Linked DNA regions of Homo sapiens. The protein of the gene in region 1 purifies or fractionates together with the protein of each later gene. This does not show direct contact. Each region holds a gene or a part of one and is shown in the gene's direction. Other genes may lie near its edges.

Evidence for each region.
Region 2: the proteins of LAMP3 (region 1) and ARFGEF1 purify together in Homo sapiens (affinity purification with mass spectrometry; 2 studies listed by BioGRID and IntAct, with this or other methods). This does not show direct contact.
Region 3: the proteins of LAMP3 (region 1) and FASTKD3 purify together in Homo sapiens (affinity purification with mass spectrometry; 2 studies listed by BioGRID and IntAct, with this or other methods). This does not show direct contact.
Region 4: the proteins of LAMP3 (region 1) and MARCHF5 purify together in Homo sapiens (affinity purification with mass spectrometry; 2 studies listed by BioGRID and IntAct, with this or other methods). This does not show direct contact.
Region 5: the proteins of LAMP3 (region 1) and PCCA purify together in Homo sapiens (affinity purification with mass spectrometry; 2 studies listed by BioGRID and IntAct, with this or other methods). This does not show direct contact.
Region 6: the proteins of LAMP3 (region 1) and HARS2 purify together in Homo sapiens (affinity purification with mass spectrometry; 2 studies listed by BioGRID and IntAct, with this or other methods). This does not show direct contact.
Region 7: the proteins of LAMP3 (region 1) and FASTKD1 purify together in Homo sapiens (affinity purification with mass spectrometry; 2 studies listed by BioGRID and IntAct, with this or other methods). This does not show direct contact.

Annotation. Positions count from the first base shown.
Region 1 is NC_000003.12:183,145,735-183,149,234, reverse strand, and holds part of LAMP3 (lysosome-associated membrane glycoprotein 3 precursor), read left to right. Parts: intron 1-3,500. UniProt on the Homo sapiens protein: Lysosomal membrane glycoprotein which plays a role in the unfolded protein response (UPR) that contributes to protein degradation and cell survival during proteasomal dysfunction.
Region 2 is NC_000008.11:67,263,782-67,267,281, reverse strand, and holds part of ARFGEF1 (brefeldin A-inhibited guanine nucleotide-exchange protein 1), read left to right. Parts: intron 1-51; coding exon 52-191; intron 192-297; coding exon 298-406; intron 407-1,074; coding exon 1,075-1,276; intron 1,277-3,500. UniProt on the Homo sapiens protein: Promotes guanine-nucleotide exchange on ARF1 and ARF3. Promotes the activation of ARF1/ARF3 through replacement of GDP with GTP. Involved in vesicular trafficking.
Region 3 is NC_000005.10:7,859,032-7,862,531, reverse strand, and holds the end of FASTKD3 (FAST kinase domain-containing protein 3, mitochondrial), read left to right. Parts: intron 1-474; exon of another isoform or gene 475-581; intron 582-728; exon of another isoform or gene 729-758; coding exon of another isoform or gene 759-879; coding exon 880-949; exon of another isoform or gene 950-1,047; intron 1,048-1,268; coding exon 1,269-1,383; intron 1,384-2,992; coding exon 2,993-3,097; 3' UTR 3,098-3,373; downstream 3,374-3,500. UniProt on the Homo sapiens protein: Required for normal mitochondrial respiration. Increases steady-state levels and half-lives of a subset of mature mitochondrial mRNAs MT-ND2, MT-ND3, MT-CYTB, MT-CO2, and MT-ATP8/6.
Region 4 is NC_000010.11:92,343,167-92,346,666, forward strand, and holds part of MARCHF5 (E3 ubiquitin-protein ligase MARCHF5), read left to right. Parts: intron 1-3,500. UniProt on the Homo sapiens protein: Mitochondrial E3 ubiquitin-protein ligase that plays a crucial role in the control of mitochondrial morphology by acting as a positive regulator of mitochondrial fission and as an important regulator of immune response.
Region 5 is NC_000013.11:100,302,093-100,305,592, forward strand, and holds part of PCCA (propionyl-CoA carboxylase alpha chain, mitochondrial isoform a precursor), read left to right. Parts: intron 1-831; coding exon 832-906; intron 907-3,500. UniProt on the Homo sapiens protein: This is one of the 2 subunits of the biotin-dependent propionyl-CoA carboxylase (PCC), a mitochondrial enzyme involved in the catabolism of odd chain fatty acids, branched-chain amino acids isoleucine, threonine, methionine, and valine and other metabolites.
Region 6 is NC_000005.10:140,694,455-140,697,129, forward strand, and holds part of HARS2 (histidine--tRNA ligase, mitochondrial isoform 1 precursor), read left to right. Parts: intron 1-1,053; coding exon 1,054-1,179; intron 1,180-1,283; coding exon 1,284-1,391; intron 1,392-1,648; coding exon 1,649-1,747; intron 1,748-2,066; coding exon 2,067-2,160; intron 2,161-2,488; coding exon 2,489-2,616; intron 2,617-2,675. UniProt on the Homo sapiens protein: Mitochondrial aminoacyl-tRNA synthetase that catalyzes the ATP-dependent ligation of histidine to the 3'-end of its cognate tRNA, via the formation of an aminoacyl-adenylate intermediate (His-AMP).
Region 7 is NC_000002.12:169,556,866-169,560,365, reverse strand, and holds part of FASTKD1 (FAST kinase domain-containing protein 1, mitochondrial), read left to right. Parts: exon of another isoform or gene 1-1,442; coding exon of another isoform or gene 1,443-1,453; intron 1,454-3,068; coding exon 3,069-3,179; intron 3,180-3,500. UniProt on the Homo sapiens protein: Involved in the down-regulation of mitochondrial MT-ND3 mRNA levels which leads to decreased respiratory complex I abundance and activity.

The DNA of each region.
Region 1 (3,500 bases):
ATTAACCATCCCCTTTTCCCCCACCCCACCCATTACCCTTTCCAGCCTCTGGTAACCATCATTCTACTCTCTATCTCCATGAGTTCAGTTATTTTAATTTTTAATTTCCACAAATAAGTGAGAAGGTACAAAGTTTGTCTTTCTGTGCCTGGCTTATTTCACTTCACATGATGACCTCCGGTTGCATCCAGGTTGTTACAGATGACTGGATCTCATTCTTTTTTACAGCTGAATAGTACTCTATTGTGTACATGTACCATGTTTTCTTTATCCATTCATATGTTGATGGCCACTTGGGTTGCCTGCAAACCTTAGCTGTTGTGAACAGTGCTAGAATGGATGTGGGAGAGCAGATCGCTTCGATATACTGATTTTCTTTCTTTGGGGTATATATCTAGCAGTTGGATTGCAAGATCATATGGTGGCTCTGTTTTTAGTTTTTTGAGGATCCAAACTTTTCTCCATCTTGGTTCTACTAATTTACATTCTCACCAGCAGTGTATGAGGGTTCCCTTTTCTCCACATCCTCACCAGCATTTGTTATTGCCTATCTTTTGGATAAGAGCCATTTTCACTGGGGTGAGATGACATCTCATTGTAGTTTTGATTTGCATTTCTCTTATGATCAGTGGTGTTGAGCACCTTTTCATAGACCTGTATGCCATTTTATGTCTTCTTTTGAGAAATGTCTGTTCAGATCTTTTGCATTTAATTTTTTTAATCAAATTATTAGATTTTTAAAATCAAATTATTAGATATTTTACTGTTGAGTTGTTTGAGCTTCTTCTATGTTCTGGTTGTTAATCCCTTGTCGGATGGATGGTTTGCAAACGTTTTCTCTCATTCTGTGGGTTGTCTCTTCACTTTGTTGATTGTTTCCTTTGCTGTGCAGAAGCATTTTAACTTGATGTAATCCCATTTGTCCAGTTTTGTTTTGGTTGCCTGTGGTTTGGCGTATTACTCAAGGAATCTTTGCCCAGACCAACGTCCTGGAGAGTTTCCCAGTGATTTCTTTTAGTGGTTTCAAAGTTTGATGCCTTAGATTTAAGTCCTTAATCCATTTTGATGTGATTGCTGTACATTGCAAGAGATAGGAGTCTAGTTTCATTGTTCTGCATATAGATACCCAGTTTTCCTAGCACCATTTATTGAAGACACTGTCCTTTCCTCAATGTATGTTCTTGGCACCTTTGAATTTCTGCATTTTAAAAAAGAACTTGGCTGGAGTGGTGACTCACACCTGTAATCCCAGGACTGTCAGAAGCCAAGGTGGAATGATTGCATGAACCCGGGAGTTTGAGATCAGCCTGGGCAACATAGCAAGACCCTATCTCTACAAAAAATTTAAAAATTAGCTAGCCATGGTGACGTGTACCTGTGGTCCCAGCTACCACATGCAAGCTGAGGTGGGATGATTGCTTGAGCCTAAGAGGTCAAGGCTGCAATGAGCTATGATTGTGCCGTTGCACTCCAGCCTGGGTGATAGAGTGAGACTCCGTTTCTAAAAGACATCAATCAATAAGAGCTTGTTTAAGCCAAAACAGGGACCCTGAATTCAAGAATTACAGGTGCTAGGCATATAACCTAATGAGCAAAGCAAGCTAGTAAAAAAAAAAAAATTGTTTTCATTGAAACAAGCAGTCCTAAATTTTTATTTTACCAGTTTTGATGAAGATCAAAATATGTCTTCATCAAAAATTAAAGACAAGAAAGATTTCAATTCCCATTCAATCTAATAAGAAAAATATTAAAGTAAGCACAAAGTAATGAAGCAACTGAGAAGGACTCAGAAATTGGGAGACAAAAGGGAGGGACAGGAGAGTGCTCATCTCCCTAGGAGTTAGCTCTGCAGATGGTGCAAATGGCAGGGCTGGTGTCTAGCCCCGGGGATTATCAGTGTCTTTTATGGCATTTATTTGGGATGGTCCAATGTCCATTCTCAGTGACTTCCCTTCTGTGCCAGTTGTTCAATATTTTTTTTTTCTTTGTTTTTAGACGGGGTCTCACTCTGTTGCCCAGGCTGGAGTGCAGTGACACGATCTTGGCTCACTGCAACCTCCGCCTCTTGGGTTCAAGCGATTCTCTTGCCTCAGTCCCCCGAGTAGCTGGGACTACAGGTGCATGCCACCACGCCCGGCTAATTTTTTGTATTTTTAGTAGAGATGGGGTTTCACCATGTTAGCCAGGATGGTCTCGATCTCCTGACCTCGTGATCCACCTGCCTCGGCCTCCCAAAGTGCTGGAATAACAGGCACAGTTGCTCAATATTTTACATGTCCCCTCAATCAGGTGGTAAGGAGAGGGTGGTATTGCCAGATCTTCTGATTGTTCCAGATAAGGCAGAAATCTAGATCTTTCCAGAAAAGCACTTTTTTTAATGTTGGCAACACATTTTTAAAAATTTGAGGGCCGGGCACAGTGGCTCACACCTGTAATCCCAGCACTTTGGGAGGCCGAGGTGGGTGGATCACCTGAGGCCAAGAGTTCAAGACCAGCCTGGCCAACATGGCAAGACCCTGTCTCTACTAAAAATACAAAAATTAGCTGGACGTGGTGGCGCATTCCTGTAATCCCAGCTACTAGGGAGGCTGAGGCAGGAGAATCGCTTGAACCCAGGAGACGGAAGTTGCAGTGAGCCGAGATTGTGCCATTGCACTCCAGCCTGGGCAACAAGAGCAAAACTCTGTCTCAAAAAAAAAAAAAAAAAAAAAATTTGAGCACCATGCTGGCCAAAAAACATACAACTGAAGGCCAGATTTGGCCTGTGGATTCTGACCCTGTGACTTCTGCCCTAATGGGTGTATTGTATGAAGTGTATTTAGGTAAGAAAGCCTTCTAGATTTTTCCAAAAGAGAAATGGACTCAACCATTCAGTCAGTCGCTTTTGAAATGTTGCTGCTTTCTAAACCAGCACTTCTCAACAGCAACAGTATTAACATTTGAGGCCAGATAAGTCTTTGTGTGGGGACTACCTTGTGCCTTGAAAAATGCTCAGCAGCATTTCTGGCCTCTATCTCCAAGATGTCAGGAGCAACTGCCCACCCCAGTCTGACAACTCAAAATGTCTCCAGACATTGTCAAATGTCTCCTAGGAGGCAAAAATCATGTGCAGTTGAAAACCACAGCTCTAGAGAAAAAGAGAACCTTAGAAAATGTGAGTTTATTCATTATAATATAATAGATGTTATGAGAGCTAAGTTGTAGAATGATAAATGGATGTTGATTAGGCCTGATTTATCAACTCGTTTATTAGTAAGAATTTACTGAGCACCTACTTTGTCCCTAACAATGAGCTTGGCTATGAAAGAAAAATAACAGAAATATAGGCTATAGTTCCCGCTTTCAATCTGTAGGGTTTTGTTTGTTTGTTTGTTTTTGAGACCAGGTTTTGCTCTTGTCGCCCAGGCTGGAGTGCAATGACATGATTTCGGCTCACTGCAAACTCTGCCTCCTGGGTTCAAGTGATTCTCCTGCCTCAGCCTCTCGAGTAGCTGGGATTA
Region 2 (3,500 bases), on another chromosome or scaffold:
GTACTCATATCCTAGATGTACTTTGTTGAAATTAATGTTATATTGTTACAGATGCTCAGAGTGTAGTGGATATTTATGTAAACTATGACTGTGACTTAAATGCAGCCAATATATTTGAAAGACTAGTAAATGATCTATCAAAAATTGCTCAAGGAAGGGGCAGTCAAGAACTTGGTATGAGTAATGTTCAGGTAAGAACTATAAAAACATTTTCAAATTTAAACTTTACCAGGAAAGAGTCATGTGTTTTCCTTAAAAGACCTTTAAAAAAAATTTTGTTTTTGAATTACTTTGTAGGAATTGAGCCTGAGGAAAAAAGGTTTAGAATGCTTAGTGTCGATTTTGAAGTGTATGGTTGAATGGAGTAAGGATCAGTATGTGAATCCCAACTCCCAGACAACTCTTGGTAAGGTGATATTTTGAGCTGTAATTCTTTGTCATTTTAAGTGAATAATACTTTGGAGGATAGTTGCAGCTGCTGTTAAACCAATTTCATGACATATTTATTCATTTAACTGATGAGGAAACATTCTCTGTGAGTTAAATGTCTAGCTTTAAAATTGTGAGATTTTTAACTTAGTTATCCAAACTATTTTTTTCTAAATCTTCTTAGAAATATTTTGATTATGTAAAATGAAGCATATTTATGCAACTTTCTTGTATTATAATTATAGAGGAAACATATAAAAGGCAGTATGTTTTAAGAAGGTTGAATTGTTCATCTGTGTTTGATGTTTACCCTCACTCAGAGAAAAACTCATAGCTGCAGGGCTACACTGGTATTATCGAAAACAATTCCTCATGAGGAGTGAGCTGAGAGCAGAAATCCAGTGGATACTCAGCACTGCAACTGCAAAAAGAACTCCTCCTAATGGTGCAGACTATACACGTACAAATTACAGTGTGTTTTAATATCAAAGTATGTTGTTTACTATGTTACCTAATAGTTATTTTGTATTAAATAGATATCTAAGCAACATTGAAACGCCTTGCCTTATTCAAGAATTTGTTTGCCCTTACACTTTTTTTTTTCTTTGATAGAATAATGTACTCTATCAATTTTTCTTCTTTCAGGTCAGGAAAAACCCTCAGAGCAAGAGATGAGTGAAATCAAACACCCTGAGACAATAAACAGATACGGAAGTTTAAATTCCCTGGAGTCAACATCATCATCAGGAATAGGCAGCTACAGTACACAGATGTCTGGCACTGATAATCCAGAACAATTTGAGGTCCTAAAGCAACAAAAAGAAATAATAGAACAAGGGATAGATTTGTAAGTGTCATAGCTTAAGGAGAAATGTTATTGAATATCTCTCTGCCAGTATAGTGCCACCCCTGCCGTGGGTTTATCACCTTATAATGAGTAAAATGGAGGATAGTTCTCATGGATCTAATTCACGAGGCTCCTATTCAGCCCCCCTTGTTCATTGCAGTCTAGCCCAACTAGATTCCTGTAATGCCCAACCACTCTTGTCATATAAATTAATTTGTCACCATATTATAAGTGCTGTTGATGGGTATCATCTGTGCAATTTTGCACTGTTTAGCTCATGACATCCCCCCATTATATTTTCTAATCATGTGACAACTCAAAACATTTAAAATATGAAACTTCTAATAGCTATCAGTACTCCTTTATAGGTCTTACATTTTTTCCAGCTGGCTTACAAATGTACTATTCTTGTTATTGATTTCATTTTTATATGTTGATGAGGTGATCACCTCTCTTCCAGCCTGGCTAGTGTACCGGATCCTAATCTTGTGAAGTCAGTTTTCCCACTAAGCTTTGTGATACCTGCCTGCTCCTGGACTATTTCCTTTGTGAATGTCACCATGCTGCCTTCCTTTCTCTTGTTGCCCATCTCTTTTTTTCAAAGAGATGCCATAAGGAAAAATGAAATTGTTTGCCGTCTCCATGAATCTAACTATTATAAACTTAAAAATTCCCCTGTGTGCTTACTTGGTTTGCTACTTCTGTAAAGCATTTCTTCCTGATACTTAAGCAGTGCCTTTTAGTGAATGTTCAGGTGTCTTTTTTCTCCAGTGTTAATATGAAAAACAGTTCAACAAAAATGTACACATATTCTATTTTAAAATTACAAAATCTTACCAAATTGCCTCAGGAAATAGCTGTCACTACTGCATTAATTCTAATTGTTCAGTCAATATTTATTAAAGTCTCATCTTTCCAGATATTATGCAAGATCCTGGGGAAACTAGATACATGGAAAAGCCCTTCCTTCTGAGAGGCTCTTGGTCTAGTGTGTGTAAACAAATATGCATATTGAAATTCTGCTGGTCACCCAGTAAACACATATTTGGTACTTGGGACTATTGCCAAGCACCATGAAGGCATTGGTCCTTGTATTCAAGATTGCATTCTAAACATGAGCAATTTTTAAAAATAGTACTGTGTAAATGTTTATAAAAGAGTGTCGTACAGAGTAAGTACTGCCAAGGTACTTATTTTGAAGTACTTGAGAAATGAGAAGGAGTAGTCAGAGGGCTTCGAAGTGGAAGTCTCCCAGTCCTTCTCTCAGCAGCTAGACTTGCTTTCTACTTAATACAGCCATTGATGAGAATGCTTTCATGGAACTGTATTCCTAGTATACTTGTCTACAACTGTTTCATGACACCAGTCTATCCTGTTTCTCTCCTACCTTTTTGACTATGCCGTCTCAGTCTTGTGGGCTGTTTTTTCTTTCTTCCTGCGTGCATCTTAGCATTGCCAGCGTTCTGTTCCTCAGCCCTTTTCCAACATCAGCCCCTTAGTTCTCCTACCCAAAACAAAAGACAAATAGAGAAGCCTGTTATTTTTGTATTTCTTATTTATGGTAGTAACCCCAGCATGCTACTAAATTTATAAGCTAAAATCCTGGGAGTTAGCTTAGATTTTCCCCTCAAAGGATTAGATTCTCGAATCTAATCTGTCACTAAGACTTGTTGATTATACTTCCTAATATCCCTGCAATCTGTACTCTTTTCTCGATCTCCCACCACTATTCTTGCAAATCAAATCATGATTATTTATTTCCTCAACTAGTATAATCTTTCAATTGGCTTACCTTTTTCTTTGGTTTTGTTCATTCTTCAGTCTTTTCCCATGCTTAACTAGAGTAACCTTTCTTGAATGAAAGTCTATTTTTTCCCTCTCTTAGAGAATAAAACCAAAGCTGCTTTGAAGGTATGATAATACCTTCATGATTTGGATCTGCTGGACTCTAAGCTTCATTTCCTGCCACTTTTCTGTCTCACCTCACTTTCCAACAATGCAGAACTATTTATTATATAATACTGTCTTGTGCTTTTGTGTTTTAGTATGGCTTCTTCCTCTCTTGCATGTTTTTTCTTATTGTTTATAAAAGATATAATTGTTCTTCAAAATAGTTCCAGAGTCACCTTTCCCAGGAAATATATTATGACCATCTAAGTTAGTTACTTCTACTGTGTTATTTTCTTACCTTGTGAATACATCTATTTGTCACAGTTTTAGTATT
Region 3 (3,500 bases), on another chromosome or scaffold:
GGTCTAAATAAAATAGTACCTGGAACGTAGGAAATGCTCACTAATTGTTAGCTACTACTATAACCTAGGCTTGTACTGTCCAAATATAGTAGCCACTAGACCATGTGGCTATTTAAATTTAAATTATTAAAAGTTTAAGAAAATTCAATTCCTCAGTCACATTGTAAGTGCTCAGTAGCCACATGTGGCTCATGGCTGCCAAATTGGACAGCACCATTATAAAGATTTCCACATCACAGAAATTTCTCCTGGACAGCACTGACAAGAGACTCCAAGTCCTCCGTCCTTACAGTTCTTCTAACTTGATGAGCAGAAGAAAGCCTTCTCGTAAAGGACAGCAGTTCATAGGCTTCAGATGGTCACTTCTCTTCTCTTTACGAAGGGAACTGCAGTTTACCAGAGGGGAAGGACAGTTCGGAAGCCTTCCGTGCTCGCAGACCAGGTGTCTGGGTGTGGCATGCTTTCTTTACTTACCATGGAGGCACTGCAAGTTGGAATGATGGAAGTTATGAGTTGCACAGATGTCTAATGTCTTAACTCAAGGGTTTTCTTCACAGTCTGGATTGAAGGATCTCTGCCACCTATCATAAGGGGAAAGAGAAAGCATGCATGGTTCTTGTCATACCCCAGATAACTTCAGAACCCATTCTGTGGTTTAGCGTTATTGAGCTTTCTTAATTTAAGGCTGACTTGATTGATCATAAAGCCAATTGAATTAAAATTCTCACCATTGTTTGGTTGTGGTCATTACTTTGCAGCCTTCAGTCCAATTGATCAATGCAAGGTGGAAGGAATCAAAGCAAAGCAAAGGAATGAATACAGGAAGATAGTGTTTGTGAGGGTATCACACGAGGAATTTTTCCTTTCTTCTCTCACCAGATGTTGAAATTAAATTAGATGAAGAAGGATTTGTATTGCCATCCACAGCTAATGAAGATATCCATAAAAGGTACAGGAAAATGTTGTGTTTTTCACATTACAAGACTCGTTGAGGCTAATAAGCAGCGGTATCTTTTTCTCAAGAAGGTGAAAAAAATAGATATGATTCTGGAAATTAAAATACTACATTTCAGAATACCATGTTGGGAAATTCCTTGTAATATTTTATAAACATTAATATTAATAAGATCAAATTCATGATTCATTTGAAAATAATATTGGCACATAGTAATAGCCAAATCCCAAATAAACTTTGGCAACTAAAATATATAATAAATATTTTGGATTATTTAAAAAATTAAGTATTTTTCTCCTTTTTTATTTTTCAGGATAGCACTGTGTATTGATGGTCCAAAAAGGTTTTGCTCCAATAGCAAACACTTACTGGGGAAAGAAGCTATTAAACAAAGACACCTACAGTTACTCGGTTATCAAGTTGTTCAGGTACGGTTTCACCTATTTTTTTTGTTTCCCAAAAGCAAATCCTATTTCAAAATTATTTTTCCAGGTTACTTTTAAAAAGTAATCTGAGGCACAGTAAAATTTTAAAGAATTTGATCAGGCAGCAATTATTGAACTGGACAGCACAAAACTCGAAATGGCTTGGGAACCCAAGAGGGAGGCTTTTATAGGAAGAACACAAGTACACAAAGAATCTACTTGACTGGTTACAGTTACATATTCTTGCTGCCTTGTTTGAACTATTCTGTGGAAAGTTCCTAGTTATATAATTATTAGTTTGTGAGATGCTTCTGATTGGTTGAGCTTAAGTTCTGTTTTTCTGTAGTAGAAGCTTCTACAAGAAATAGCCCAAGTTAAATTTTGCTTAACATTTGCACTTTAAGCAAAGTTAAGGTTATTTTCAAGGCCCAACTGGCTTGGTCTGCTCAGGGATTTTTCAGGCACAGGCTCCATTTTAATTTGCTTTTACAGTACTAACTGGTTTGCCAGCCCAGTGGACCACCGATCTTACGTCTAGTTTAAATCCCAACGTTGTTAATTCGGCTTAAATCTCTTGACTTATATTTTGAAATACAGAATTTTCAGAGCTTTGATTTTTCAAAAGTGGGGCCTACCTATATTCATTATAAGCTATGCTTAACCCTGCTTTTAGAATTACTCAATTGTTGGAATATATGTTCTGTTTTAATTTCTCCTTGATTTAATAAATAAAAATGAACAAGATAATCCATTAAAATAAGGAGCTTCACCAACACTTAATATTTAAGACCTTTTAAATATTTCACTGTAGATAATGTAAGAAGGTCTTATGTGAGGGCTCAGCAGTGCGTGAGAATGAGCGCTGCCCTAATTCTCTAAGCTGTCAGTACTAGGCAGCACTGTGGTTTCATATCTGCTGACTTTTTTCTCCATCTTGCACATCCCCAGCTGAATATTCCTAAAACTAATCATGCCAGTGTCTACTCAGAAGCTTCAATGTTTCTTTACTGCTTACAGAATAAAGTAAAAACTTCTCTACATCTTAACATTCAAGACCCTCCAATGGTTGGCCTGCAGCCAGGCTGCAGGCACATGATTACTACCTGGCCCCTCTGCTCCCAGCTGAGCAGACTCTCTCCTTTGCTGCGCCTCCTGCTCTCTCCCTCTTCATTCCCTCTTTGTCCCTGCTGCGTCCTCCAGCTCTCTGAATACCTACCTTCCAGCAGTTTGTCGGCATCCCCACCCTCATCTAATGAAATGCTCACTCCCTCTTAGCACTAGATCACCAACCTACAGCTTGTTTTTTATATTTATTGTGTAATTTAACTTGCCACCCAAGTTGTGAACTCCTGGAGAACAAGAGATCATGTTTAATTCTTATTTGCATATTCTACATATTAATTCATCAAATATTTACCAAGCCCCTTCTCAGTGCCAGGCACTGTTCTAGACATTGGGGATACAGGATGAAGAAGCTGGTTGGGATATTTGCCTTCCAGGAGCTTACATTCCGCTGTGGGGAAGCGTGTAAGAAACAAACAAAGTAACCAATAGCCAGAGGAACCTCAGATTTTGAAGGATCTTGACCAGTTTTACTTTTCTACCTTTACAGATCCCCTATCATGAGATTGGGATGCTAAAATCAAGACGTGAATTGGTGGAATATTTACAAAGAAAACTGTTTTCTCAAAACACTGTTCATTGGTTGCAAGAATGAATACTGACTTCAGAACTCAAACAATGGAAGAACTTGCATTTTTATGGAACTCAGTATTAAAAGAAAAATATAATGTGAATTAGCCACTTTGCAGAATATGTTCTAGACTGGTGATCTGAAAGCATCTGTAGTTTTCCTTATACTATGTATACATTTATTGTGGTAAAATTTAAAATTAATTTTAATTTAATACTAGTGTCATAGATACTTTTTGTACATCAAACAATTGATCATGTGCTGTAAAGGAATTCAATGAATAAATGTTATTTTTAAGTATTTTGTCATAGTTATCTGCTAAATGAAAATATTTTGCTCTTTAGAGACCTTTTGTTTTCTAACAGATGGAGGAAATTTTTTCTCTTTGTGTGCTGTGAGTGGAAGTGAGATTTACCGTAAGGAAAAG
Region 4 (3,500 bases), on another chromosome or scaffold:
ATGTTGTGTAGTTTTTCACCTCTGTCCTTTGGCTTACGTCACCTTCCCAACCTAATACCTGCCCTTCTAGTCTTCTGTGTACTTATCCAAATCTAAACCCTCCTTCCAGGCTTAGCTAGCTTTCCTCCATAGAACTTACAGGCAACTCCTGCCTGCTGTGATTCCTTCTTCCCCCACATTCATGACATTTTTATTCCTCAAATGGCAGCTAGTCCTGCCCTGATGAAGTGACATTTCTTATATAGATTATCTGTTTAACTTTTCTTGTTTTTAGGCCTTATTTTTCCTGTTAGGAGGTAATTTCCTTGAAAGCAGAGTCCATTTTATGCTTCTGTATTCCCTGTTACAGCATCTACATAGAAACTAACACATTAAAGGGTTTCATAAATCTTTGTGGTTTTGTTTTTTGTTTTTTTGTTTGAGACAGAGTTTCGCTCTTGTTGTCCAGGCTGGAGTACGGTGGCGTGATCTCAGCTCACCGCAACCTCCGCTTTCCGGGTTCAAGCGATTCTCCTGCCTCAGCCTCCCGAGTAGCTGGGATTACAGGCATGTGCCACCACGCCCAGCTAATTTTGTCTTTTTAGTAGAGATGGGGTTTCACCATGTTGGTCAGGCTGGTCTGGAACTCCTGACCTTAGATGATCTGCCTGCCTCTGCTTCCCAAAGTGCTGGGATTACAGGTGTGAGCCACTGCACCCGGCAGTCTTTATGTTTTTTATGTGACCACTTCAAATAATGAGTATTAGTACATCACCTGAGGAGGGAGGATCAGGATGATTTACTAAGACTGAGAAAGACATAGAAACTTAGAGCAGATTATACATTATTTAATGTACAAATACATTATATAGATATATATATTTTGCAAATGAGATTGAGTTATTTTCTTAAGACTTTATTGACCATAAGAAGTGAGATGGCTCTTTTTTAAGAAAGATTTTTAGGCTGGCACAATGTTAAAAGAATTTTGATAATTAATGGGGCACTTGTTAAAACACAAATAAATTGAAAACTCTGATCCCCAGCATCAAGGGATATAGTCCAAGACAAGACGTTCATAAATGAAACCACTGGAGAACAGTTACAGGTTAGATAGATAAATGTGATAAGAGGGCAGAAGACTATATAAACAATATTTTAATTCAGTAAAAGTGAAAGATAATTTGATTTGAAATTATGAGAAAAGTCTTGAGCTAACCCTTAAAGGAAATAATTTGAATTGGTAGAATGAAATAAGCAAGGAAGCAAAAACTATAGTACACATATGTGTTACCATTTAGAAATAACCTTCACATGTAATGTCTCACTTGAAAAGATTTTTTTTTTTTAGCCCAGAAATGAGACTAGCTATGACAGTAGGTGGATAGTGTTGTGTGATTTAAGAGTATTGGGAAGATGACTTTTACCTTCCTGAGCACATATGATAGAGAATGTGCCCCTCTACACCATCAGTAGTATTTAGGGTTTGCCTTCTAACACTTGATTGTTTTTCTCTGATTCCTTAACAACCCTGCAGTACAAGTAAACCAAATCAAGGAATCAGATCACTGTTATTTTCCCATTTATTTTCTTTCCTTCTCCATGGACCTGTCATAGAATCAATACTTTTTAGTTGTGGGGAACTTGAATAGGACCTTCCTCTTGCATTTTTATTGAAAAGACAACACAATAATTTTTTTTTCTCGGCACTGTATTGAACACCTAGCACTGATGCATTTAACCCTTGCAACAATTTTATGACATAGATTATTGTTATAAATTATTCCTAGTTTACTGGTTTAGAGAGTTTACAGGTCCAGTGCCACACAGCAGAGAAGCATTAGGACTCCTGTCCCTTGGCTCCTTAAGTGAAGCCTGGTCCCAGAGGCAGCTGGAACATTTTATCCTGGAACAGTGGAACCTTAATATGTTTAGCCTAGTTCCCATTTTTGCCTCTAGTGCAAAGACAGCCCCCATTAGCATTGCCCATTCTTAATTACAGTACTTACTTATCCTTGATTCTGAGTTAAAAAAAAAAAAACCCTGTTATTTCATCACTGTTTCATCCTCTTGTTAGGATTCTGGCCAGGTGCTGTAGCTCATGCCTGTAATCCCAGCACGTTGGGAAGCTGAGGCAGGCAGAACCCTTGAGGCCAGGAGTTGGAGACCAGCCTGGTCAACATGATGAAACCCCATCTCTACCAAAAATACAAAGAAAAAATTAGGCATAGTGGCTGTATTCCCAGCTACTCCGGATGCTGAGGCGTGAGAATCGCTTGAACCTGGGAGGCAGAGGTTGTAGTGAGCCAAGATTGCACTCCAGCCTGGGCGACAGAGCAAGACTCTGTCTCTAATTAATTAATGTAGAATTCTAATAATAATTTAAAAGCTCAGACCTTAATTAAAACTGTTAGCCTTTCAGCAGCAATGAACTGCAGGCCTACCTAGATATGAAAATCTAGCTTTTAGCCCTTCTGCAGGAAAAACAAAAAATTATTTTTCTCTAAACCTGCAATTCTATAGGTCTTTTGTTTTTCTCTTTTTTTTTTTTCTTTTTTTTTTTTTTGAGACAGAGTCTCATTCTGTTACCCAGGCTGGAATGCAGTGGCGCAGTCACGGCTCACTGCATCCTCGAACTCCCTGGGCTCAGGTGATCCTCCCACCTCAGCCTCCTGCACAGCTGGGACTACATACACATGCCACCACGCCCTGCTAATTTTTGTATTTTTTGTAGAGACAGGGTTTCACCATGTTGCCCAGTCTCAAACTCCTAGACTCAAGTTACCCACCTACCTCAGCCTCCCAAAGTGCTTGGATTACAGGCGTGAGCCACTGTGCCCAGCCAGGCCTTTATTTTATACATAGATAACAAATTCTTAGACATTCTATATAATTCCTGGAGCTTACCCCAAAATCGAAGTCTTAAAAATAATGTTTTTAAATCTTGGGACAAGAAAGCAGAATGTATGTGATTACACACAGGTTCACTGACTTTGTATTGGCCAAAATTAAATCAGGCCTATTGCTTAATCACCTTTCATTTATTGCCCCTGAGTATGACTGTTTTAGCAAGTGGTGTACTGCAGGTGTTATACTACCTTATTTCTTCACAGTGTATATATTTGCACACTTGTTTGGTTTGATTTTCTCTCACTTTCAAAAGACATCTGTTTAACCTGCCATTTTAGCCCCAGCACAAAATCATTATTCAGTGAATGAATGAATGCATGTGTGAATGATGAGCCTCATCCCACTTCTAACTTGCTTGAGCATGGGGCATCTCTCTTCACTTTAGTTGTAACAAGTGAAATACTGGGCCTTTGCTCATTCTTTGCCCTATTTCCTTCTTTTTTTTTTTTTTTTTTTTTTTGAGATGGAGTTTCACTCTTGTTGCTCAGGCTGGTGCAATCTCGGCTCACTGCAACCTCCACCTCTTGGGTTCAAGCGATTCTCCTGCTTCAGCCTCCCGAGTAGTTGGGATTACAGATGACCACCACCACGCCTGGCTTGTATTTTTAATA
Region 5 (3,500 bases), on another chromosome or scaffold:
TTAAATTGTAAAGCTTTTAGTAAAACATGTACTCTTAATTTATAATTTTAATTTTGGGTTTTACTCATAAACTCTCAGTTCAGTACTTCTAAATGCTTTTTTTCAAATGACTAAAACAAGAATGCAAGGTAACATTTGTACTATTTTTACTTTTCGACATCAAAAATGTCTGTCAAGATTAAAAATAAATCAGTGTCTGTGTTTAAGAATACTGAGAGCTGGTTTGAAATATTTTTCAAGGAGTTCAAAAATATGTTTTGGCGTGACTGTATTGCTCTTGCTTTTTTCATATTTTAAGTAGTATTACTTTCATTCTTATGACACTGAACCTGTTTATTCTGATGATCTAAGATATTTACAAATGAAGTGCATATCTAGTAGCGTGCAAAGTTTTTTTTTTCAGGTCTTTATTTGAAGAACCCAAATTCTCAAGTTTTACCATATGTGAACTGTTTTGAGAAGTAAGAAAAACAAATATCTTTAGTATACCACATTTGTTGTTCTAAACTTGAGTATGTTTTGATGTAGGGCCTAGGTTATTTTATTTTTTGCCCAAGGCATTCTAAGAAGTTTTATAAAATGTTGGAATTTTACCAATTTCAATAAAGTATGAACAAGGTCAGGCTAAATTCTGCTTACAGTTCTGTTTGATTTTTAAGTACATTCTAAGTTGTCTAGCGTAAAAGACAATAATATTCTGAAATCTGTGATTTGGTAAATACCATATGTTGAAAATAGACCTATAAATGGTTCTTCATTGTGTAAATATTTAACCTTACTTGTGCTGATTTATATTTCAAAGACTGTGCTTCCTTTCCTTTGAACTTTCAGGACCCCTACAAGTCTTTTGGTTTACCATCTATTGGGAGATTGTCTCAGTACCAAGAACCGTTACATCTACCTGGTGTAAGTCATTAAGCTGTAATACCAGCTGAAGGGTTAAAATCGTGATTTATGTCATACTTTTATGTTAAAGCATGTCAACACCAAAGGGTGTAAATTGAAGGACAAGTGAAATTCATGGGAATCATGGTTTTTGTGTTGAAAACAAATTTTTTTCAGTATTTTGTGGTGTTCAAGAAAGTCAGGATTCACTGGACAGGGGAAGCCTGGGGACATCTGATGATATAAATGATAGCTTACAGTGTTCCCAATTCTTTCGAAAATTATAATAAAAAAGGCTGTGAATCCTAAGAATGAGAAATGATGTTTTGTGTTACAATTTAATCTTTTCAATAAATCGAGTCCAACCCTGCTATATAGTCACTTGTCAAGAAATTCAAGCACAAAATCAGCTCCTTAATTGAAATTTAAGGAGATTGAATTAAGGCAAACAAAGTGTGCCTCAGTCTATTAAACCTCATGGACTTTAAAGAGTAATAATATTTATATCAGTTAAATAAAAGTGACCACTGTCCATTTTATTCCATAGCTCTTCTGTATTTAATAGCTATTTTGAAAATAGTTTTTGTTGCAGAAAAAGAGCAAGGACATACCCTTTTTCTTAATCAAGGTAATAAGTGCATATATATATATATATATGACATTATGTTAGCTAGTAGATGACAAGGCTGTACCATCTGTGAATATTCAAATTATTCATTTTGATTACTGGCATGAAGATGGTGAAAGATTACAGGAAGAATTCTAAATCTGAAGATATTATTGGATATATGATTTATTTCACTTTTTAAATTGTTTTTGCCCATGTGCTTTCTAAAGGGACTTGACCCTTTCTGTGCTTGGAGACTCCATGCTGTGTTCAAAGCCAGAAGGCAGAAAAAAAATTGTGAAGATTTAACAGGCATTATGTGACGTTAAATAGCACATGAGAAAACAAGTATCATAGGGACATATCTAAACACTTTTTTAATCAAACAAAAGAAGTATTAAATAAGAATTCATAATGATTACTCTAGTTGTTAGAAGTTTTCACCATGTTGTAATAGCTAACAGGATGTCAAACATTTTGCCCTCGCAAGTTTTTGCAATTTGCAATTTTCAAACGTGAGACCTGTTGAAAGTACAAGTGATAATGGACAAACTATACCCCCTACAGTCTTCATCCCACCAAATCTTTCTTCAATTAATGCTGCAGCAGGAGTTTTATGTAATAACATTTGCAGTTGTGAGCCATCCATAGAAAGAAAAAACAATTAAAATGCCTTAAATGTTCTGCTTACTGCTGTTATTTGCTTGTGTGAATGTTGCATGTCAGCTAAATGGACCAAGGAGTAGATAAAGTGATTGGGTGCAGGAGAGTGCACACTAAGCTTTGTCTATCATTATTGCTGGGAGCAATCAAATTGATGTCAGCAGGACAGTAGATGCGTTGACAGCTGTAATTATGTATCTCCATGGTGATCACTTTTGGCCTGTCATGGAGGCCCATGAGTCCCCTCCCTTGGAAGCATTTAATCAGATTGGGCTGTCACTTGTCAGGTAGACATGGCGGGCTGGGAGTTGTGCTTAGGGGGAGAGGTGAATTGAGAATGAAGGGTGGGAGATGTCTGATAGTTTCACAGAGTCCACTGTGGTACTGAAGACAGAAATTTTAATTATGCTAGAGGTTTCTGAGCAGTGGTTTGAGAATCTCGTACAGAGGTGCTTGGGTGTTTTGTTGTGGTTGTTATTGTTTGTTTTTCTTCCTTGTCTTATTAAAACTAGAGCAGTCAGTTTACCTTAGAAAACAATTTTTGGCTCTTACCTTTTTTGGTCACAAGAATGCATACTTAAGAGTTAACTTATGGTTTGTACTTTTCACATGCTTCATTAAGCCTGAGATTTATTAATATGGCAGAGGTGAAGATTTCCTTTTTTATTTTTGATCATCATGTTTTGTAAATTTGTTATTTTCAGACCACAGTTTTGTTCTGCTCAGAAATTTGGTTCTGATTTCATTTGAATTTTTTCTTAAAGTTTTTAGTGCAAATTTGTATAGCCTTTCATTGAAGGAATGGAGACTTGATCTGACTTCAGATTGGTTGTTAAGAAATAAAAATATAGCTGATTATTACTTGGAAAAAGCAGCATAAATAGTAAATTATAAAGCAGAGTTTTCATACTGTGGTACAGTTTTTAATTGGGAATACTGATTTGCTTATACAAAGATACGTGTTTATATATATCTTGATTTTATCGTATGTATTTTAAAGTTAAGATGACATAACTTCTGTGATCATAATATTAGTAAATAACAAAGACAGTTATATTTAATTAAGATCTGTAGGTAACACCTTATAGGATGATATTATTCAAGGCAACTGAAGTTTTAAGTAAGGAACTGTAGAAGAACATAATAAATATTCTTTATTGTCTATGTTATTTTATTTGTGGGTTGAACATCTAAGTTCTTCCTAGCTTTGTAGCAGTTTATGTAGCAAATGATAGGATGTAGTTAAAGTCAGAAGTTTTAGAACTTGTATCAGTCTCGTTTGTAAACACAGCATTAGCAAGCATGCTGTGGTTTTAAAGATGACATAGTGGTCAAATTAGCTCTT
Region 6 (2,675 bases), on another chromosome or scaffold:
CTAGTGTGTATCATAATCCTTTGGGGGAGCTTGCAGAAGCACAGACATTTGGCTGCAGTCCCAGAGATTCTTAGCTAATTCTGTAGCTGGAATGGGGCTCAATAATTTGTATTAAAAAATTGTTTTTTTTGGCCAGACACGTGGCTCACGCCTGTAATCCAAGCCCTTTGGGAGGCTGAGGCAGGTGGATCACCTGAGGTCAGGAGTTCAAGACCAGCCTGGCCAATATAGTGAAACCCCATCTCTACTCAGCTCCTGCTGAGCTCTGGGGCTCTCAGGTTCTGAGTCTAGTTTGGGACTGACTGTCACCTTGTCTCCACAGATCTCTTTTGACGTAAAAAGTTAGCTGGCTGTGGTGGCAGGTGCCTGTAATCCCAGCTACTAGGGAGGCTGAGGCAGGAGAATCACTTGAACCCAGGAGGCAGAGGTTGCAGTGAGCCGAGATTGCGCCATTGCACTCCAGCCTGGGTGACAAGAGCAAAACTCTGTCTCAAAAAAAAAATTTTTTTTGTGGAGATGGGTGTCTTTGTTGCCCAGGCTGGTTGTAAACTCATCGTTTCAAGTGATCCTCCCATCTTGGCCTCCTAAAGTGCTGGGGTTACGGGTGTGAGCCACTGCATCTGGCCTACAGTCTGCATTTTAAACAAGCATCGTGGGTAATTAAGATGCATGTAGTCCTTTCCCTGCACTTTCAGAACCAGTAGCTTAGAAGTTGTTAGGCAAATCCAAGTTCTGAAGCTTGACTATTTTGAGATGGTTCGGAATCGATCTGAATGGGCAGAAAGACCTGAAGTTAGTTCTTGGGTCACTTCTATCTCTACTTGCCTTGCTTTCTGCTGAACTTTTAGTTTTGCTAGGTGAGATTCCTTCATTTGACACTATTCAATATATATTGAATTCCAAGCACTGCTAGGCCTTGGGGATAGTGGAAAAAAGGGAAGGTCCTTGTTCTTACCCTAGTGGATGAGATCCAGGCCCAGTCCTCCCTAATGTCTGTATACTGGGCCTAATCTTTGGATGCAGTATCCCTCTTCCTTAACCCATTTATGTGAGGTTCCCTTTGCTCGTTATCTGGCCATGAATAAGGTGAAGAAGATGAAACGTTATCATGTTGGAAAGGTGTGGCGGCGAGAGAGCCCAACCATAGTCCAAGGCCGTTATAGGGAGTTCTGCCAGTGTGTAAGTGACCTGATGGGAGCAGCACAGTTTGATAGTTCTAGGGGCCACAACCTTGAAACTGGCTGGATAATGGATGTTTTTTCCCATCTTTTTCTTTGCTGTAGGATTTTGACATTGCTGGTCAGTTTGACCCTATGATCCCCGATGCAGAGTGTTTGAAGATCATGTGTGAAATCCTAAGTGGATTGCAGTTGGGAGACTTTCTCATTAAGGTGAGGCCAGGGCTGAGAACTGTGGGAGAAGTCTGGATTTGGCCTAATACTGTTTATGCAAGTCCCAAACTTGGGTGACTCCAACCCTTAAGCCTGCAACTGTAGGACTTTCCTAGTAAAGCTGTTGTATTTCCTATATGTCTGTACTCTTCCTGTGAAATTTCCATCCTTTTTGTGTGTCAGGAAAGTAGGTACTGCCATTGTTTTGAGTGGAAGGGCATTGACAAGCACTTGGGTCACTGACATTGAGTTCTCAGGTAAATGACCGGCGGATTGTGGATGGGATGTTTGCTGTCTGTGGTGTTCCTGAAAGCAAGTTCCGTGCCATCTGCTCCTCCATAGATAAACTAGACAAGGTAACAAAGAAGACATACTTCAGTAGACCCTATCTAGCTTCTGCCCTGCCCTCAAATCCATACCACTAGTGAAAAATAAGGAGATTGTGGCTGGAAGTGGGCTATTTTGGGGTGGAAGGTAAGGAGGCATACTCTGAAGGAAGATCTGAGTCATGCTATACAGTGGGGATTGTGACTGGATTTCTTAAGCTGTCTCTGACTTTGCTGAGTATACAGTTAGCTACTTGTGATGTATATACTGAATGGAAGTTGAGTTGTCCTTTTTCAGTTTGAGAAAGAAAGATCTTGGGGCTGGGCTAATGTTTGGGTGTTTATGCAGATGGCTTGGAAAGATGTGAGACATGAGATGGTGGTGAAGAAAGGCCTGGCTCCTGAGGTGGCTGATCGAATTGGGGACTATGTCCAGTGTCATGGTAAGAACCAGGGTTTTCAGAGCTGTGATAGAACCAGGCTGAAGGTGACATGTGCTCAAATTCTACCTCTGAAACAACTCTTTTCTGTAGATATGCTAAGCTCCAGGGCCTGTCCTGAATTTAATTTCTCTTTTACTTATTGTAACGACTTTGTGTCTTCAGATGGCAAAGCTAGAGGCAAAGGAGGAGGGTCTTGTCATGTGAGACTGGGATCTTTTTTTTTTTTTTTTTTTTTTAAAGAAAATGAGGAAGACTAGCTAGAGCACATTAGGGATAATTTTGAATGAAACACATGTGAGTGAACAGCAGAGACTTTATTTCTCTCCAGGTGGGGTATCCCTAGTAGAGCAAATGTTTCAGGATCCCAGACTATCCCAGAACAAGCAGGCCCTGGAGGGCCTGGGAGACCTAAAGCTGCTATTTGAATACCTGACTTTATTTGGAATTGCTGATAAGGTAAGCTGAATTGCAAATGGACCTCCTGCTGAGCTCTAGGGCTCTCAGGGTCCCGAGTC
Region 7 (3,500 bases), on another chromosome or scaffold:
TTACTTTTTTTGTTGTGAATACGTGGAGCCTTCAAGCTTAGGTCTCCTTGCAGCTCTGGAAGGTACAAATATCACCCTATTAGGTTGTGGAAGGGAAAATAATCTCTTATGCTCTGCTCCTTGATTCTTTTTCTGATTATTCTAATTTACATCTCAAACTCTTAGTCTGTTGCTGTGTTCTGAAAGGTAAACCTCTGATACTGGGCCAACATGAAAAAAAATGAGGGGAAACGCCATGTGTTTTTATTCTCCCTTTTGTGCTACATGACTGGATTTACACATATAAGACTCCCCCACCCAGTGTAAGTCTGTGGAATATTTAGAATTATAGTAGTCATAGCAGAGGGCCATTTTATGCTTTGCTGTCTTCATCACAATAATCATCAAAGCATTTATTATGCACTGGGCATATGTTCCCATGTCAGGTTTGAGCAAATTTTGTGTGGCGCCTCTCATTTAGGAATTTCCAGTTTTGCTAGATACTGATGTAGGTAGTAATATTTGAAATATAATGATGAGCAAATATTAAATTAACATACAAATACGGTTAATAGATAAGAGTTTCTCTTCCTAGGCCATGTGACTGGATTTATACTAGACATAAACTTCCCCCACCCAGCATAATTGTATGAAATATTTAGAATTACAAGCTGGGCACGGCGTTGCACGCCTTTAATCCCATCACTTTGGGAGGCCGAGGCAGGTGGATCCCTGGATCCCAGGAATTTGAGACCAGCCTAGGCAAGATGATGAAACCTTGTCTGTACAAAAAAATACAAAATTAGCCAGATGTGGTGGTGCCCACCTAGATTCCCAGCTACTCATGAGGATCACCTGAGCCCAAGGAGGTTGAGCCTGCAGTGAACTGACATTGCGCCATTGAATTCCAGCCTGGGCACAGAATGAAACCTTGTCTCAAAAGAAAAAATAAAAGAAAAAAATAAGAATTTTATATAATAGTCCTAACACATAAGTATGATTAGTAGATTCACTTAAGCAGGGGTTCCAAGACTTGCACAATAGGGGAATCTGTATCATTACTCTGTTAGGGAAAACTTTACGGAGAAAGTTTTATTTTTTAAGAGTACTTTGTGGCTGGGTGCGGTGGATCATGCCTGTAATCCCAGCACTTTGGGAGGCCAAGGCAGGTGGATCACCTGAGGTCGGGAGTTCAAGACCACCCAGACCAACATGGAGGAACCCCGTCTCTACTAAAAATACAAGATAAGTCGGGCATGATGGCAGCGCCTGTAGTCCCAGCTACTCGGGAGGCTGAGGCAGGAGAATCGCTTGAACCCGGGAGGTGCAGGTTGCAGTAAGCCAAGATCGCGCCATTACACTCCAGCCTGGGCAACAAGAGCGAAACTCTGACTCAAAAAAAAAAAAAAAGTACTTTGAATTATATGAAAAAATTTAAGAGCACATCTTAAGACTATATCAAGATGGAAACAAGGTGATTATTAAAAAAAACTATTGGGGCCCAGCACGGTGGTTCACACCTGTAATCTCAGCACTTTGGGAGGCCAATGCTGGCAGATCACTTGAAGTCGGGAGTTTGAGACCAGCCTGGCCAACATGGTGAAACCCCGACTCTACTAAAAATACAAAAAAAAAGGGCCGGGTGTGGTGGCTCATGCCTGTTATCCCAGCACCTTGGGAGGCTGAGGCGGTTGGATCACTTGAGGTCAGGAGTTCGAGACCAGCCTGGCCAACATGGTGAAACCCCGTTTCTAGTAAAAATATAAAAAATTAGCCGGGCGTGGTGGTGGGCACCTGTAATCTCAGCTACTTGGGAGGCTGAGGCAGGAGAATCGCTTGAACCTGGGAGACTGAGGTTGCAGTGAGCCAGGATTGCGCCATTGCACTCCAGCCTGGGCAACAGGAGCGAAACTCTGTCTCAAAAAACAAACAAAAAAATACAAAAAATAATTAGCCGGGAGTGATGGCAGGTGCAATGGTGGGCATCTCTAATCCCAGCTACTCTGGAGGCTGAGGCAGGAGAATCGCTTGAACCTGGGAGGCGGAGGTTGCAGTGAGCTATCATGCTCCTGCACTCCAGCCTGGGCAACAGAGTGAGACTCCATCTCAAAACAGACGAAGAAACACACACACGAACAAACTTTATTGGAACCGTTTTTTGTCACCAAGTACTGTTAAAATCTCAGTGCTAAAGCAATAAAACAGTTGGGTTTAACTGAGTCTGTCTTCAAGGAATTTATATTGCAATTGAGAGGATAGATATAATTGAAATATGTAAATACTGTAACAACATAGTTTATGAAGAAACAATAAAATTAGTGATATGGATAGTGCTGTGAGCAGACAGAAGTGAGAGAAAAATATAGACTGAAGTGGTTGGGAAAAGTTTGTGGAGAAACTGGGTTTGAAACCTTTGAAAAGGTTGGTGGAAAGGATGGCATGGAGTTATCCATGTGAATAGACAATTAGTTTATCCTATCAGATGTCACGTTTCGAGCTTGCTTTCTAAATGATTCTAAAAAATACACGTATCATGGTACTTAACATTACTGCACTACTTTGGATAGTTCAAATGACAACTAATCATAGTCAAAATGGACCAGCTTTGTTAATTTTCAGTTTATACTGTTATATCAAGTGCTTAGTATATGAGATTTCTGATAATATGCAGGTTTATTGACTCCTAGATGTTCCTATTCAGTTTTAAAACATTTGGGAAATTGTCAGAATATCAACTGTTCATTTCTTAGCTCTCTAGTATTGAATAATTTCACTGAATCATAGTATTTTATAACCATTATAACCTTGTATTATTTGAAAATCTTAAAATATCTTTTACCTGTATTTTTCAAACAGTTTAAGATTGGATTATAATGAGGCCTGAATTTCATTGAAGAAGACAATATATTTTTCTTTATTCAGTAATATTTTATATTCGAGTAATGTGGGGAGAACACTAGAATTATATATTGGATTCAGTTTTTGTTTATATTTTTTTTCCTATTTGTTACCCAAGAACTGTTATTTAAAAAAAATTGCAAGCTAATTTTCAGTCTTTCAACCAAAAACTTTTTTTTTTTTGCTTCTAGACTTAAATCAACTATGTTATTGATGTCAGAGGACCTAACTGGCGAGCAAGCCCTGGCAGTGTTGGGAGCAATGGGAGATATGGAAAGCAGAAACTCATGTCTGATTAAAAGGTATCTTTTCTGAAATTTACGACGTTAAGTTTGTTGTCATTCACAAGCACCTATTTTTTTCTAAGGAAAAATGGTTTTCTTCTTTAATCTACCAGTTGTTTTGAAGAAATAAGGAATTAATGCTTAAGCCACTGTTTATGTTCTACTTTGTTTTTCTTTTCTTTTTTTTTTTGTTTTTTTGAGACAGAGTCTCACTCTGTTGCCCAGGCTGGAGTGCAGTGGCACTATCTCTGCTTACTGCAACCTCTGCTTCCCTGGTTCAAGCAATTCTCTTGCCTCAGCCTCCTGAGTAGCTGGGACTACAGGCGCCCACCACCATGC